4 linked regions of the Homo sapiens genome follow. The protein of the gene in region 4 purifies or fractionates together with the protein of the main gene of each other region. This does not show direct contact. Each region holds a gene or a part of one and is shown on either strand. Other genes may lie near its edges.

What was found.
Region 1: the proteins of COA4 (region 4) and MSRB2 fractionate together in Homo sapiens (co-fractionation; one large-scale study listed by BioGRID). This does not show direct contact.
Region 2: the proteins of COA4 (region 4) and RIMS1 purify together in Homo sapiens (co-immunoprecipitation; one large-scale study listed by IntAct). This does not show direct contact.
Region 3: the proteins of COA4 (region 4) and COX11 purify together in Homo sapiens (affinity purification with mass spectrometry; one large-scale study listed by BioGRID and IntAct). This does not show direct contact.

The regions. Positions count from the first base shown.
Region 1 is NC_000010.11:23,094,018-23,098,705, forward strand, and holds the start of MSRB2 (methionine-R-sulfoxide reductase B2, mitochondrial precursor), read left to right. Parts: upstream 1-1,561; 5' UTR 1,562-1,591; coding exon 1,592-1,709; intron 1,710-4,688. UniProt on the Homo sapiens protein: Methionine-sulfoxide reductase that specifically reduces methionine (R)-sulfoxide back to methionine.
Region 2 is NC_000006.12:72,180,050-72,183,985, forward strand, and holds part of RIMS1 (regulating synaptic membrane exocytosis protein 1), read left to right. Parts: intron 1-2,234; coding exon 2,235-3,100; intron 3,101-3,936. UniProt on the Homo sapiens protein: Rab effector involved in exocytosis. May act as scaffold protein that regulates neurotransmitter release at the active zone.
Region 3 is NC_000017.11:54,959,880-54,963,182, forward strand, and holds the end of COX11 (cytochrome c oxidase assembly protein COX11, mitochondrial), read right to left. Parts: exon of another isoform or gene 3,042-3,303; intron 3,037-3,041; coding exon 2,854-3,036; 3' UTR 1,448-2,853; coding exon of another isoform or gene 1,386-1,447; 3' UTR 748-1,385; coding exon of another isoform or gene 687-747; 3' UTR 543-686; downstream 1-542. Other genes in the region: TOM1L1 (TOM1-like protein 1), read left to right, coding at 687-747. UniProt on the Homo sapiens protein: Exerts its effect at some terminal stage of cytochrome c oxidase synthesis, probably by being involved in the insertion of the copper B into subunit I.
Region 4 is NC_000011.10:73,873,986-73,878,362, reverse strand, and holds the start of COA4 (cytochrome c oxidase assembly factor 4 homolog, mitochondrial), read left to right. Parts: upstream 1-1,516; 5' UTR 1,517-1,606; intron 1,607-1,621; exon of another isoform or gene 1,622-1,664; intron 1,665-1,787; exon of another isoform or gene 1,788-1,884; intron 1,885-3,887; exon of another isoform or gene 3,888-3,942; intron 3,943-4,377. UniProt on the Homo sapiens protein: Putative COX assembly factor.

The sequences.
Region 1 (4,688 bases), on a different chromosome or scaffold from region 4:
GAATTGCTTGAGCCTGGAAGATGGAAGTTGCAGTGAGCCAAGATCGTGCCACTGCACTCCAGCCTGGCCGACAGAGACTCTGTCTCAATCAATCAATCAATCAATCAATAAAAATGGTGCTGGAACAACTGGATATAGATATGCAAAAAACAAAACAGATAAACAAAACAAAACAAAAATTTTGGCCATATATAAAAATTCTAAATCGGTCAGAGACCTAAATGTAAAACCTAGAACTATAAAAATTTTAGAACAAAACATAGGAGAGAATCTTTGTGATCTTGGATTAGGCAAAGATTTCTTAAATATGATACCAAAAAAAGAACAATCCATTAACAAATTGATAAATTGGGCTTCATCAAAATTAAAAACTGCTCTTCCCAAGACAATATTAGGAGACAGAAAAGACAAACAAGAGACTGGGAAAAAAAATCTTTGTAAAGCATATGTTTGATAAAAGATTTGCATCCAAAATATATAAAGTGTTCTAAGCTCAATAATGAAACAACTCAACATTAAATGGGCAAAAGATCTGAACGGACACTTCACCAAGGAAAATACACTCGCTGCAAATACGCACATGAAAAGATGCTTAACATCATTAACGATTAGAGAATGCATAATAAAGCCACAATGAGCTACCACTACACAGAACCGGAACATCTACAGTTAAAATCTCTGGACTTTCAAGTGTTGGCAAGGATGAAGAACAACTGGAACTCGCATAGACTGCTAGTGGGAAGGTAAAGAAAAAAACCACTTGGGAAAACAGTATAGTAGTTTCTTAAATGGTTACACCTACCTTACGACCTGGGCATTCCACTTCCAGGTATTTACCCCAGAGAGGAAAAACCGTATATGTCTGTACAAAGATTTGCACAGGGATGTTCCTAGCAGCTGTAGTTCTAATCAGGAAAAATTGAAAGCAGGCTAAATCAAGTGCTGACTAAACACACGGTGGTATATCCATAAATGGAATACTGCTCAGGAAGCAATGAATGATTGTTCCATGCAAAAACACGCAGGCATGTCAAAGTAACTATGTTGAGTGAAAGAAGCCAGACAAAATCAAGTACATATGGGATGATTCCATTTATGGACGACTCTAGAAAATGCAAACTAAAACAGATCAGTGTTTGGGCTGCGGATGAGTGGAGTTGGGATAGGTGGAGGGGGGCAGGGCGAGGGAGGAGCAGGAGTGGGAGGAGCTGGGAGATGCAGAGATGGGTTGGGGAGGGTCTCATGGAAGGGAAGGGAGAGAGGAAGGGGGAGAGGAAGGGGGAGGAAAGGCAAGGGGAAAAGGAGAGGAAGAGGGAGGGGGAGAGAGAGGCAGAGTGGGAGGAAAGAGGGGCGGGGACCTGGGAGGGCCCAGGGCACATAGTGGGAGGAGCAGGTGGGAAGGAGGGAAGGAGGGAGGGGCAGGGGAGGGAGAAGAGGGGGAGGGAGACGAGGGGACTGGCGGTGTGGGCGGAGCGTGGGGAGGGAGGCCGACTAGCGCAGGCGGACGGGAGAGAATGGGGGAGGGGTGGGATGGGAGCAGGGGCAGAGACGGGCAGAGGGCAGAGGGCGGAGCGGCGCCGGAGCGGGCGTCATGGCGCGGCTCCTCTGGTTGCTCCGGGGCCTGACCCTCGGAACTGCGCCTCGGCGGGCGGTGCGGGGCCAAGCGGGCGGCGGCGGGCCCGGCACCGGGCCGGGACTGGGGGAGGCAGGTAGGACGCGGGTCCCGCAGGCCCCGCCGCCGCCTACGGCTTTCGGCTTCATTTCACCGGCTGCACCCGGGAGCCTAGGGCCGGTCCAGGCCGGGCGCTGCCCTCCTACTAAGCCCTCCTCGGCGCGCCCCTCCCCCCCCCCAGCCCGAGGATCTGGGACAGTGGATTGTAAACTTGGTGGCGGCAGGGTGGGGACTGACCCCTGTGAGAATCCGAGGAAATGAACAAATGATCCCCCTAAATGTGCGCATAATTTTTTTTTTCTTGGCTCGGGGAGTGGGGGCATAAGTGGGGCTCGGGGGCCTCTGACCCCTATCGGGGACTCCAGGCGAAGGCCCGGGGCCTGGGCTGTAGCAGCCCGGCCCGCGCGCCCCTGCGAAGGCCCCTAGTATTTTGCATTGCAGCCCTCTTCGTAGTTCCGCGGGCTTCCTTCCAGCATCTGAGAAGCAGGCAGTTCAGACTTGGGGTTCCTGTGAGTGTTTCCTGCCCTGCTGACTTCCCATAAATGTGTCTAAGAGCCAGGGAGACTGGGTTGATCATTTGTTCCTTCTTTAAGGTGACAGCCATTGTTAATGACTGAGACAGAGACCAGGGCGAGCCTGTGTGTGTGTGTCTCTCTCTCTCTCTGTGTGTGTGTGTGTGTGTGTTTCTGCTAAATACTTTTGGATCCTCTCTTGGATCTGGGTACCTGCACATTTCACCAAGCAGGAAGGAGTCACCTCGGGAGACCTGTGCCAGCTACCCCTGTATTTCAGTTCTATTTCAGGGTAACTTAGTGCCCCAGGGGATTGGCTTCCTGGGCGGTTGCCAGACTGACCCACTCTGAATCCAATTTTATATGTGTTCATTGAAGACATTCAGAGATACCCAACTGATGAAAATGTACCAACTCATTCTGAGCTCTTTTTAGCCCCTGAAGTTTTCGAAATGCAATATTGAAAGAATACGTAACTAAATAAAAGCGTTGGCGTTGTGGAATGTTAGCTCATCCAACTTGACTTCCAGCTATGGCCTTTCTAATCACTGGTGTCTCTAGTCAGTCTGATGACATTTGCTGTGAGCCTACTGTGTGCCAAGCATTGTATTGCTGAGAACCACAGGTGATAGAAACAGGTCACAGTTACCGACGAGCTCTCTATAACCCCTTGAAAAAGGATGGTGGTTTTAGCGGTAACTACTTCATGGCTGTAATTGCTGCTGTCAGAAGCAGCCTAATGAATTGCCCTGGGATCTGAAGTTCTCCAGCAACAATAAAATTTGGCCAGCCACCAGTAGGTAACAGGAGCTGTGTACCTTATCAGACACCCCTCCTGGGAATCTATTCGAAGGAAATAGTTCAAAAGAAGAACAAAGAGATATATGCAAAGATGCTTTAAGCACTAGTCTCTTACAAAATGGAAACTGGCTGTAACCCAAATCAGTTAAGAAATACTTACGTAAATCATGAAAATTCAATCCAACAAACTGTTAGGCAGCCATTAAAAATGATAAACGGAGTATTTCTGTGGTGAAGGGCTTGGGTATGAATAGATGCAGATTTTGAGTCTTGGCTCTCGGTTACTTCCTGGCTCTGTGTCTGAGCTCAGGCTGCTATTGCAAAACACCGTGGACTGGGTGGCTTCAACAACATTTTCTCACAGTTCTGGAGGCTGGGAAGTCCAAGATCAAGGTGGGAACAGATTTGGTTCCTGATGCAGACCTGCTTCCTGGCTTGCAGTTGACTGCCTTCTCACTCTGCCTTCAGGTGACTGTCTCAGGAAGGACCACTAATCCCTCAAGAGAGCCTCACCTTTATGATCTAATCTAAAACTAATAACCTCCCAAGCCCCACCTCCACATTCCATCTCATTGGGAGTTAGGGCTTTAGCATATGGGAGTGGGGAGAGGAGCAGGGAGAACATATAATATTCAGTTTGTAACAATGTCTTTGGACATGTTTCTTGAATTTGGAAAGTTTAAACTTCAGATTTTTTTTCCTTCTGTCAAATAAGGATAATGATAATGGTAGGGTTGTTGTAAAGAATAACTTTTTAATTAAATATTTTGTTACAATGCTTGACACTTAGGCACACAATAAATGTTAGTTATGATTACATAAATAAGTGGAAAGGACAAAAATGTAGCTACATTTAACTTACATCATGGGCTTCGGGAGTGTTGAGAGAGAGGGAGACATTGGGAGGGGGGAAATGAGAAGATATTGAAATGACAGTATTTTTTTCCAGTGCTGCAATTTCTCATATGCTTAGAGTGATTTTTTTTAATCCAGATTGACAAAGAGCAAACTGAAAAAGGAAAGTAAGAAATATTCTGGAGCAAAAAATCTGTTGCTTCAGGAAAATATTCTTTCTAGAGATGACTATGCTAGGAAACTGTCCTGGGCATAGGGTTAAAATAGTCCAGGCACTGGTGGGAGAGACTAGTTCTGCAGATCAGAATGGGCTGGGGATTCTTTTAATACCAGTTTCTAAAGAGTTCCATTAGATTCAACACATTATTTATCAAAATGGAGTGGGCTTATGTGTGACAATTGGCAGTATAGCAACTGTGGCCAGGAAGGTTAGCAAAACCCGAAGGAGGCACCCAGTAGGTGACCATAGGACCAAGAGTGGATTTCCTTAGGGATGAAAAAATCGAGGCCCACCCCGTAGAACTTCTGACCAACAAAATATATGGCCTGTGCAAATCACAGCACACAGAGAGAAGGGAACTCCAAGGAATTTGAGTTTATTAAGGCATAATTCAAAGTAAAGCTGTGTAGTTATCTCATGCAATAGCAGCAACCGATAAATGTTTTCATAGTGAAGATAGCAAGAGAATGTAGAGGGAATCTGGAAAATGTGTAGCCCCCAAAGGATGAGCACGTGGTGCAGAGGACAGAAAATACCTGCACACACACAGAAAAGGACACAGCCAGTGTTGAAACCTCTCTCTAGCCACGGTAGCCAGAAGACTTGACTCATTCCCAAGTGAGAGACC
Region 2 (3,936 bases), on a different chromosome or scaffold from region 4:
GCCTGAGGGGCGTTGTCTATCTCTAGAATGTATTCCTTAGGAGACCTTTGTTGAAAGCATTTCTTTCATATCATGCACAGATGTAAACATGAACTAAGTCACCCAGCTGAGCTACCAACTTCCAATGATGAACTCAGAAAAGCTCTTAGATCATGTTTCACTTATAAACCTAGCCCTTTAATTAAAAGTGTGCTCTGAGAGGATGTGATGGGGGAATCTGACCTATCAGAAAGTATGTGGACACATCAGAGAAGCCTTCTTTAAGGGTATTTCTTTTATGCTGAGCTCTAAAGAGTGACTTTGAAATTAACCAGGAGAAGGGAAGGATGGGTGCTCCAGGTATCTGCACAGGCACATGGCCTGAAGGAACAAGCCCAACGTGAGGGCCTCCTAAAGGATAGCTGCTGGCTACAGTGCAAGTAGCAGAGGCAATGTGGAGGAGAAAAGGCTGGTGAGGTGGTGAAGGGACAGGTTACATTTTATAGCTTTTATTGTAGGTGAAAGGGAAGCCACTGAATATTTAAACAGGGACGAATATGATCAGATTATTTACTTTGATTGATTCATTCAAAAATGTATTCATGGGCAAACATGAAGCTATGCACTGGGAAAAAGTGTTGACAAAGAAGACAGAGCCCTTATCTTCATGAGGCTCATGATTTTGGGGCCAGGACTTTTGTTAGCACCTAGACTGGGCTTATTGTTTTTGTATGTGTAACCATTACTTGGAGAAAGGAGGCTCCAAGGAAAGCTTTTGAACCCCTTTTCAAGCAAAGCCCATACAGTAAAAGATCAAGGACTTCAAAGTTAAATAGGTCTGGATTCTAGTCCTGGCTCTGCCACAATAGGCAGTAAAAACTCACTTGCAGGGTTGTGGCAGGTATTAAAAGAGAACATGTGTTCCCAAGCTGGCACATAGTAGGCTTTCAGTGAATGTAGCTATTATTCAAGCCAGTAGTCATTGTGTATTTACTACAGATAAACACTGTGCCAGGAACCAGAGGGCATAAAGATGATTAGAACATACATGGTCCCTTTTCTGACAAATCCTAGGGAAGAGACCACACACTATTCTAGGGAAGACAGACACCTAGGTAATTAACAAGGATGCTAATTTGATCAAAGCTAGGCAATATGTATAGTATTTTGAGAGCCCTAGGAAAGAGGAAGTGACTTCTCAATTAAGCTTTGTAAGATACTCAGGAGTTGTAGGGGAGCTACACAGCGTATAAGAGGGCAGTACAAGAGAATGAGTGTTACTAAGCTATTTGGAGAAAGGATAGAAAGGACACCAGAGATATCTCAGGGAACGTAGAATTAATAGCATTTGGTGACAAATTGTTGTGGGAGAAGAAGAGACAAAAATACTGAAGCTGCAGTTTGGAACTGGTTGGAAGATGATATCTTTAAATAAGATAGAGAATTTGGAGCTGTAAAGTTTCTAAAGAGAAAAGAGTTCTGTTTTTGACATATAGTGAAAAACTATAAAAATTTCAAGAACAAGGGCTGAATAGATACTTTTTGTTCTGACTTTTTAGTTAAAATTTGAAGAAGATTGATAGGGACAAATAACTTTACTAATGATATAAATTCACAGGAAAGCAATGAGGAATTGGGAAGTACAGAAGCAGGAAGAGAGGTGGCCAGTGTAAAGAGCTGGGCAACTTCAGGGAGAAGCAAGATTGAAAGAGACACTGTTTATTTGTTTTAAATTACTGAAGAATTCTTGACCGTATTTTGTACTGTCAAGGAGTTAGAAACAGAAAATTAAAGGTAGAGATGAGAAAAAGTATAATTAGTAGAGCAAAGAATCAGAGACACTGGAGAACTCCTTCCATTTGCATGACACTCTACCCTTTCATAAAACATCTTCACAGATGGTGTCTCTAATCCTCACATGAACCTTGCAAGGTAAGTATTTTTCAGCATTTCAAGAAAAGTAAATTGATTCAATGTAAACTTCTAACAAGAGCAACTATGCTTCAATGAGCTGCTAAATGTAGTACAAGCATGACACTCTTATGAAAACTATATTTGGTAATAATTAATATGTGTTCCCATTAGATCCCTTACCTTGTAAAATTCCAACACCCTTACAGTTCCACCTTCAGATCCAAATCCCTATAACTAATTATTGTAACTGAAATGATTTAAGACTGGAATGAGAAGAAAACATGTTTTTTATGTCTAGTCTTTATAAATTGCTCTCCTTGACGTTCCTTTGTATATCATAGAAAGAAGACCCCAGGGCTTTCCGAGCAGAATGGCAAAGGAGCCCTGAAGAGCGAGCGGAAACGCGTGCCAAAGACCTCAGCGCAGCCCGTGGAGGGGGCCGTCGAAGAACGGGAGCGCAAAGAAAGGCGGGAAAGCCGAAGGCTTGAGAAAGGGCGATCACAGGATTACCCAGACACGCCGGAAAAACGGGATGAGGGCAAAGCGGCGGATGAGGAAAAGCAAAGAAAAGAGGAGGATTATCAGACCAGGTACCGCAGCGACCCGAACCTAGCTCGGTACCCGGTGAAACCGCCGCCTGAGGAGCAGCAGATGCGCATGCACGCCCGGGTGTCCCGCGCCAGGCACGAGCGGCGCCACAGCGACGTGGCGCTCCCGCGCACCGAGGCGGGCGCGGCGCTGCCGGAGGGCAAGGCCGGCAAACGCGCGCCGGCGGCAGCCAGGGCCTCGCCGCCGGACTCGCCGCGGGCTTACTCGGCTGAGAGAACTGCGGAGACCAGGGCGCCGGGCGCCAAGCAGCTAACGAACCACAGCCCGCCGGCGCCCAGACATGGGCCGGTTCCCGCAGAAGCCCCGGAGCTCAAAGCCCAGGAGCCCCTCAGGAAGCAGAGCCGCCTGGACCCCAGCTCGGCGGTCCTCATGCGGAAGGCCAAGCGCGAGAAGGTGGAGACCATGCTGCGGAACGACTCTTTGAGCTCAGACCAGTCCGAGTCGGTGCGGCCGTCCCCGCCCAAGCCGCACCGGTCCAAGAGAGGCGGCAAGAAGCGGCAGATGTCGGTGAGCAGCTCTGAGGAGGAGGGCGTGTCGACGCCCGAGTACACCAGCTGCGAGGACGTGGAGCTGGAGAGCGAGAGCGTCAGCGAGAAAGGTAAGGGGGCGGCGCCGGCCGTGCGGGGACTTCAGCCAAGTGAAGAGGCGTGGGCAGAGGTGCAGGTGCTAGGCTAGTTGCTGGGTTCAGCATTGAGGCTGGGAATGCTCACAGATAAGATAGCGTTACCGCCAGTGGAAGGTCTTATTTTTATTAATTTAATTTTATTGATTGATTTGTGGGATTTTAAAACACAACAAGCTCCAAACTTAGGCTACAAAAGTTCTTGGTGATTTTGCATTCTGTCATTCTGGTAAATTTGGTATGCAGTCTAATATTTTTAAGATATTATTTTAGAGTGGATTTATTATTCTGTGAAAAACAATTTGTTTGCTAGAAAATGAAAATTATGCCTTATAAAGGAAGTAGACATTAAAAAAAAACCACATCAGTTACGTAATATTACAGTTGCAAAGGTAGTTTTTTTTTTTTTCAAACTTCAAATTAACCTTTCTCACAATTTGTGAACAGATTACAGTTTATTCTTGGACAATACGGATTTGAACTGCATGGGTCCACTTATATATGGATGTTTTTTCAATAAATATACTGGATTTTTTTTTTGAGAATTGCAGCAATTTTAAAAACTTGTGGACGAACCGGGTAGCCTGGCAATATTTTAATAAAATAAGAAAAAGTTAGGTATGTCATGAATGCATACTATATATATAGATACTAGTCTGTTTTATCATTTGCTATCATAAAATGTACATGAATCTATTATAAAAAGTTAAAAATGATAAAACCTTAAACACACACTTATAGACTACGTGGCGCCATTTGCAGTGGGAAGAAATGTAAATATGTAAACATGCGGTATTAAATCATAGCTGCAT
Region 3 (3,303 bases), on a different chromosome or scaffold from region 4:
GTGCTGGGATTATAGGTGTGAGCCACTGCACTTGTCCTAATATTTTTTTAAAAAGTTTGAAACCAGAAGAAACTGAGGAGTTTTTTAAGCAAAACATAAACTGTCCAAATTTGAGTCATATTTCTCATTTCAATCACAAGAAAAAATTAATTGGTTCTATGAAATACATACTTTTAAGAGACATAGGAATTGCAACAATAAGGCCGGGTGTGGTGGCTCACACCTGTAATCCCAGCACTTTGGGAGGCCGAGGCGGGTGGATCACCTGAGGTCAGGAGTTTGAAACCAGCCTGGCCAACAGGGTGAAACCCTGTCTCTACTTAAAATACAAAAAAATTAGCTGGGCATGGTTGTGTGTCCCTGTAATCCCAGCTACTCGTGGGGCTGAGGCAGGAGAATCACTTGAACCTGGGAGGCAGAGGTTGCAGTGAGCCAAGAAAGCACCATTGCACTCCAGCCTGGACAAAAGAGTGAGACTCTGTCTCAAAAAAAAAGAAAAAATGAAGTGCAACATTAGAATTTAAATAAACTAGAATACACACTTCAGGGCAGAGACTTATTTTTACTCATATGTAGCCTGAACTCCAAAACCAGCTCAATTTTTAATTACAGTGCTGGCAGTTAAAAACCAAAATAGCACTTTGAAATTGATACATAACCCTTTTGCTGTGATGGCTTTGTTTCAGAGCTATTTATGAAGAAATTGATGCTCACCAGCACAAAGGAGCTCAAAATGATGGTGACTGAGGTAAAGACTTCAACTTATACAACTTAATTCCATATTCCATATAATTTCAGTATAATTATCACTTTACATATTTAGTATTTAAATTTTCTAAGGGCCATCTGAGTCTGACACTTTGAAATATGAGTTCCCCTGAATCATTCAAATTGTGCTGAACCATTGTTCACTAATGAGAGTCATTCTTTGTGATTTTCTCATCTGTAAATAGTAAGGCTTGGGAATACAGTAGTTTATGGTATAGAAATATTAATGCTAACAAAATAGATGAGCAATAGGAGTAGCACTGAAATCAGGCATTTGTTTTTCATATGCAGTTAATACTTGTTAACCGGTACCAGTAGACCCATTTACCGTTAGTCCTCCAAATAGGTCTGAATTTTTCCTATTTTCAGCACTACTAATCCCATGTATTTACTATTTAATGGTCACCAATGAACTATCAAAACTTATTTATTCCCCTTATACCCTCCCCTATGGAAGAAGCACATTCTTACCTTTCTTCTACTAGACTGTGACTCTCCAGCTTCCCAGTAAAGACAAGAGAGTTATCAAGGAATGGGGAAAGAGAAGGACAGGATGAATACTGGCCATTTTCTTCTCTTTATTTTAGAAGAAAGTGGATGATCAGCTCACTACCACATCAAAGGTGCCAACTCTCTAAAACGTAGACTCTGTGCAGCTTTGAAGCCTGGAAGACAATACCTACCAACATGTCAAAGCCATGGTGGCACATTTCTGCTATAATGAAGATTAAATAGAATAACAGTTCCAGGATAACACTGATTCCTGACAACAGCGTGAGATTTCAACAGAACTTGTTTGGAACAAATACTCACTTAAAACTTCAGCAGAAGAAAAATTACTTAGTCCTTAGGCCAACCAATTTAACTGCAGTGTCATGTTTCACAGGCCTTCCTACATTTAGAAATCGTCACACAGCTGTGATAAGAGTAGATTATTTTACTATGAAATAATTCTGAATAGATGAAAGCATAAAATGTGAGAAACTGAATGTATTATTCAGGAAGAATACTGAGTGCCTTCATTTAACTAAAGTTGAATGTAAAAGTCAATTTGCACTTCTTTATAATCCTCTGGTTTAGAATTATAAATTGTTAAAACCTTGATAATTGTCATTTAATTATATTTCAGGTGTCCTGAACAGGTCACTAGACTCTACATTGGGCAGCCTTTAAATATGATTCTTTGTAATGCTAAATAGCCTTTTTTTCTCTTTTTACTGCAACTTAATATTTCTATTTAGAACACAGAAAATGAAAATATTTAGAATAAGTTGTACATTTGATGACAAATAAATCACTATTAAAACAATTTAATACTTTTTTTTTTTAACAAAGGTTTGTTTCCAGAAGAACTTTTGATGTCAGTAAATCTTCACAATCCCACCTGTACATTTTAACATTCATGGACTTGTAATGGTGATGCTTTGGCTAACAGCCTAGTAGATGTATTTTATTTCAATTTTATGATACTACAGTTTCAAAGTAATTATTCAGAACTCTGAATATAAAATAGCCCTAAACCTTAAAGGACAAATCAAATTTGAAATAAGAATTTAAATCTTTGGACAAGCTGTTAGGGCTTAGTGACTCCTCTTCTACTTTGAGCTTTTAAAATACTGACTATTCATAATGAAGGAAAATAGCAACCAACTCTTTTAGACACAATAAACATGGTTAGAAGTTCTGGCCTATGACTTGAAACAAATAACCCTGAGCATACATTTTTGAAAAACATTGTCAGATTCATTGCTGTAAGTATGAAGAGTTAATAATCTGGAAGGGAATTATGGAATTAAGCTGAACCCATGCCTGCATATTTAAAAAACAAAGCGGCTTATTTTAATAGTATCAAACTCTTCAGTATGGTATTGAATAGTCAGTCATATATTCTAGCTAGGCATATGAGTTTCTTATGATAAAAGCTGAACTTGTTCTCTCAAGTTTAAGTGAAAAAAATTAGTTGAGAAAAAATAATTATTTAAAATATAAGCCTTCATATTATTGTACAATATTTCTCCTTTGAGAAGATAGGATATATGATTTTCCCAAAAATCACAACTTTGAAGGAAGACTTAGTTGCTGACTTCAATTATATCCTGGAACTGGCAACTTGTGCCCTTCCTTTGCTTCAAAAAAAGTGTAAGAAAGAGTGATAAGATCAACTTTAATCATTCTTGGATCTTCAGCAAATTCAGGATCAATGTAGAAAAACACTGGCATATCTACTTCCTCTTGGGGATTAAGCCTTTGTTCTTCAAAACAGAAGCACTGGAAATTATAGAAAGATTTTAATAACATTTCTATTCTCGTATTACATAACAGAAACTATACAGTTCTTTTATCTTAGCATTCCAGTACACTTCGTGATTTTAATAAGCATACTATTAAATACACAGTTCTGTGATAAATTAAGAGCATCTTTTCATCTCAATGAGTTCTGCTTTAAGGATGAAGAACAAATTCTAATCTTAAAAGCAGATATCCATTTGGTTTGGTTCTCAATCTCTGCATAGCAGGTATAGATAGTGAAGAAAA
Region 4 (4,377 bases):
ACCCTAGCACTTTTAGGGTATAATGGAAAGGGTCTATGCATTTAAGACAGAAAGATCTAGGTTGACAGCAACCCTCTATCATTTGACGAGATGCATGATCTTGGGCAAATTAAGCCTTCTGATTCTGGTGCTGTATTTTCTCATAGGTAGCTAGTGGCACTTCATGTTATTGTTCTTTATTACTTATCACATTCTGTGTACTAGCAACTAGTCTGTATTTTAGCCCACCTAAATTAAGTAAGGTATAAATTTAGTAAGGTGTAAATTTCTTAAATGCAGAAGGCTATGTTTCATTCATCTTCACCATTGTTTCAATTTGAAAAACCCTTATTAGTAGTAGCAGTTGCCAAATATAGCACTGCTATATTCATCCTGAAGCCTAGAGAAATAACTGGAATAGTATAAGATCAATAAATGTTAGATGAATGAATAGTTTGCTGTGTATTCCTAATTAAGACGTCAGCTTTTCTTCTTTTTTGAGATGAGTATCGCTCTGTCACCCAGGCTGGAGTGCAGTGGTGCAATCTCGGCTCACTGCAACCTCCACCTCCTGGGTTCAACCGATTCTCCTGCCTCAGCCTCCCGAGTAGCTGGGATTATAGGCGCCCACCACCAAGCCCGACTAATTTCTGTATTTTTAGTAGAGACGGAGTTTCACCATGTTGGTCAGGCTGGTCTCGAACTTCTGACCTCAACTGATCCACCAATCTCAGTTTTCCAAAGTGCTGGGATTACAGGCATGAGCCACTGCGCCTGGCCTGGATGTCAGCTTCTTGAAGAGCAGGAACCATCACTTATATTTAGAGTATACATCTGAGCTCCACCAAGCATCCAGTATGGGGCCTGGACACAGTATTAGTTTCCTTAATAGTATCGTCCAGTATGCCTAATATAGCATTAGGGGCCTAGGAGAATACAAAGGTTCCATCACATACACAAAGTGGTGGTGAGTACAGAGACTTCTGGAAGTAACTGACGACTAATCAATATTTGCTAAATGACTGCTTGGCCAAAAGCCTTCCTGCCTCCCAGTATCCCTGTCTTTCTCCAACTCACTGATACTAGTTCTGACGCGGGGATCACACAGCTCATGTGCTCCCTTGGCCTAGGGATAGCTTTTCAGAGAATGACCATACGGGTTTGATACTTCTTTTTCCGGACCCTGTTCCCTCCATATCCCTCGACAATTGACGAAGTAACCCCTATTGATATCCTGGACCAGGCATGGCTCTCCTTGACGCAAAGCAACATCCACTACCCGCCTCCTCTGACTCTGTTCTGGGCCTGGATTCACCTGAGGGCTTGCGCCCAGTCGCTCTGAATCCTCAAAGGCGCCGCCATCTCGACCCCGCCTCCACCAGCCCACCTCTTCCGCCCCTTCCCGGAAGTGAGTCCCCGAGAAGCGTGCGGCGAGGACAGAGGTGGGCTCAACACCAAGAGGCCACCAATGAAAACGTGACTTTTTCACATTCCCCGCCCCTTCCGTGTGCACGCTCCCCACGAGGGGCTGGTTCCTGAAAGGATGTACAGAGGATCCCCAACCGCCTGCGAAACCCAAGCCGCCGCGTAGGAGCGTGCGTTCGGGCCCTCTTCTCCCACCTGTTCGGTGAGCATCGCGTACCGCGTTCTTCAGGAGGCGTTGCGGGCACAACGGGGCTGCGATCAGCGGCCGCGCGCGCGCATGCGTCCTCAAAGTTCAAAGTCCTCGATACGCCTGAGGCGCCTCAGGCCTCGTGGCTGCCAGCATTTTTCTGCTTTAAGATCCTTTCCATGACTTCCTTGTTTAGGCCAGCCTCCACGATCCAGCTGCCAACCATCTAGCCTACCCTGATCTCTGAGCAGGGGTCGTCGTCATTTTACTCCAGAGGAGACTGAAGCCAAAAGGTGGTGAGAGGAGAGTACAGCAGCATTTACTGAGTCCTATAGTAGCCCAAGCGCTTTTCATTCGTTATATTAATCTTCATTCTAATTGTGCGAATTAAATATTATTAATGGGAAAACTAAAATGAAAAAGATTACATAGTAAGGCGTAGTGCTGGGATTTGAACACGGATCTCTTGGTTTAGGATCAAGGCACTTTCTATTCCACTGTTCTTTCTCTAAATTATTTGCTCCTGGCCCTATTTAAAGAGTTAACAGTGTATTTAGGAAGAGAAAACTATCATTTATTGAACTCTTTAGACATACCAGCCTCCTTACAAACCTTACCTTTTTTTTTTTCTTTTTTTTTTTTTTTGAGACAGGGTCTCCCGCTGTAACCCAGGCTGGAATGCAGTGGCGTGATCACGGCTCACAGTGTTGCCCAGGCTGGGCGCAAACCATCCTCCCGCCTCAGCCTCCCAGTGTTGGGATTACAGGCGTGAGCCATGGCACCCGGCTTCATCTCTGTGCTTCCAGAGAGGTTATTAAATGATGTGTCCAAGGGCACCAAATGAGGCAGTGACAAAGCTAGGTCCAAGTCTGTTTCAAAGCCCATTTTCTCCCTCTTGCTTAAGTTATACCGCCTCCAAGGCAAATGAGTTGTGTAAAGTGCCTAACTCCCTCTTGTGATTCCCCATTGCCCTCAGAATAAAAAGTCTTAAACTCCCTACTATGTCCTACAAAGCCTTGTGATGATCACTTACTTATATCGCCAGTTTAATATTGTCTTATTCTCACACTGTATTCTCCCATCACTGAACTTTTTTTTTTTTTTGCTCTCATGTGTCAGATTCTATCTCAACCACCTGCTCTTCCATTGACCAAAAATAGTTTTCCCATCTCTGGCTAACTTCTGTTCCATCTGTCAAGTTTCAGCTTGGAAATCACTTCCTCTAGGAAGCCTTCCCTGCCTATTCCTGCCCTTGTCTGGATTAGGCATCCCTCCACTGTGGTCCCAGTCTTTGCTATCTGTACACTGTGTAGTAAACTGCCCTGTTTCCTTGTCTAGGTTGTAAACTCCATGAAGCCAGGAACTTAACTGACTTAGACAGTCTTGAATCCTCAGCACTAGCATAGTGCCTGGTACATGATAGGTACTTAATCATTTGTTGAGTGAATGAGAGACACAGTTAAGGCAATAAGGAGTCCTAGTTGCTTTACAGCCCATCATGGTGAAATTTTTGCAAAGGCTGAAGTCATTTCTCTTCAAACCTTAAGTTCCTTCTGTATGCTGCTTTCTGCTGAGTGTTCTGATGCAGACGGGCAAGACAGTTTGGGCAAATAAATACACCTCACATTTTTGTATAGTTTACAAAGCCATCTCACCTTATAGACCCAGAGGCCAGGTTTCTGCATACTGTATGCTACAGCCACAGTGAACTCTTTCCATCCTTCCCATGTGTCAAAACCTACCCATATTTGGGCACTCTTTCACTTTGTTTGTTTGTTTGTTTTGGAGATGGAGTCTCACTCTGTCACCCAGGCTGGAGTGCAGTGGCACGATCTTTGGCTCACTACAACCTCCGCCCCTTGGGTTAAAGCGATTCTCCTGCCTGAGCCTCCCGAGTAGCTGGGATTACAGGTGCCTGCCATCACGCCCGCCTAATTTTTGTATTTTTAGTAGAGACGGGGTTTCATCATCCCGGCCAGGCTGGTCTTGAACTTCTGACCTTATGATCCATCTGCCTCGGGCTCCCAAATTGCTGGGATTACATGTGTGAGCCACTGCACCCAGCCTCTTTCACTTTTTAAACTTTGTTCTTCAGCATAGAATAAGGCTAGTAGGATAAAAGAAGAAAGGTTATTTATTTGAAACAGGGTCTCACTATGTCACCTAAGCTGGAGTACAGTGGCACCATCATAGCTCACTGCAGCCTTTGAACTCCTGGGCTCAAAGGATTCTCCCTCTTCAGCCTCTTGAGTACCTGGGACTACAAGTGTGTGCCACTATGCCCAGCTAATTTTTACATTTTTTTTCTTTTTTCTTTTTTTTTGAGATGGAGTTTTGCTCTTATTGCCCAGGCTGGAGTGCAATGGTGTGATCTCGGCTCTCCGCAACCTCCGCCTCCCGAGTTCAACCTCGGCTCTCCTGCTTCAGCCTCCTGAGTAGCTGGCATTACAGGCATATGCCACCACACCTTGCTAATTTTGTATTTTTAGTAGAGACGGGTTTCTCCATGTTGGTCAGGCTGATCTTGATCTCCCGACCTCAGGTGATCCGACTGCCTCAGTCTCCCAAAGTGCTGGGATTATAGGCATGAGCCACCGTATCCAGCCATTTTTAAATTTTTTTGTAGAGATGAGGTCTTGCTATTACCCCTGCTGGTCTCAAATTCCTGGGCTCAAGGGATCTTCCTGCCTCAGCCTCCCATAATGCTAGGATTACAGGTGTGAGCCATCGTACCTAGCTGAAAGTTTAGTTCTTTTTAGGTAGATCAGAGATAGCTTATCTAAAAA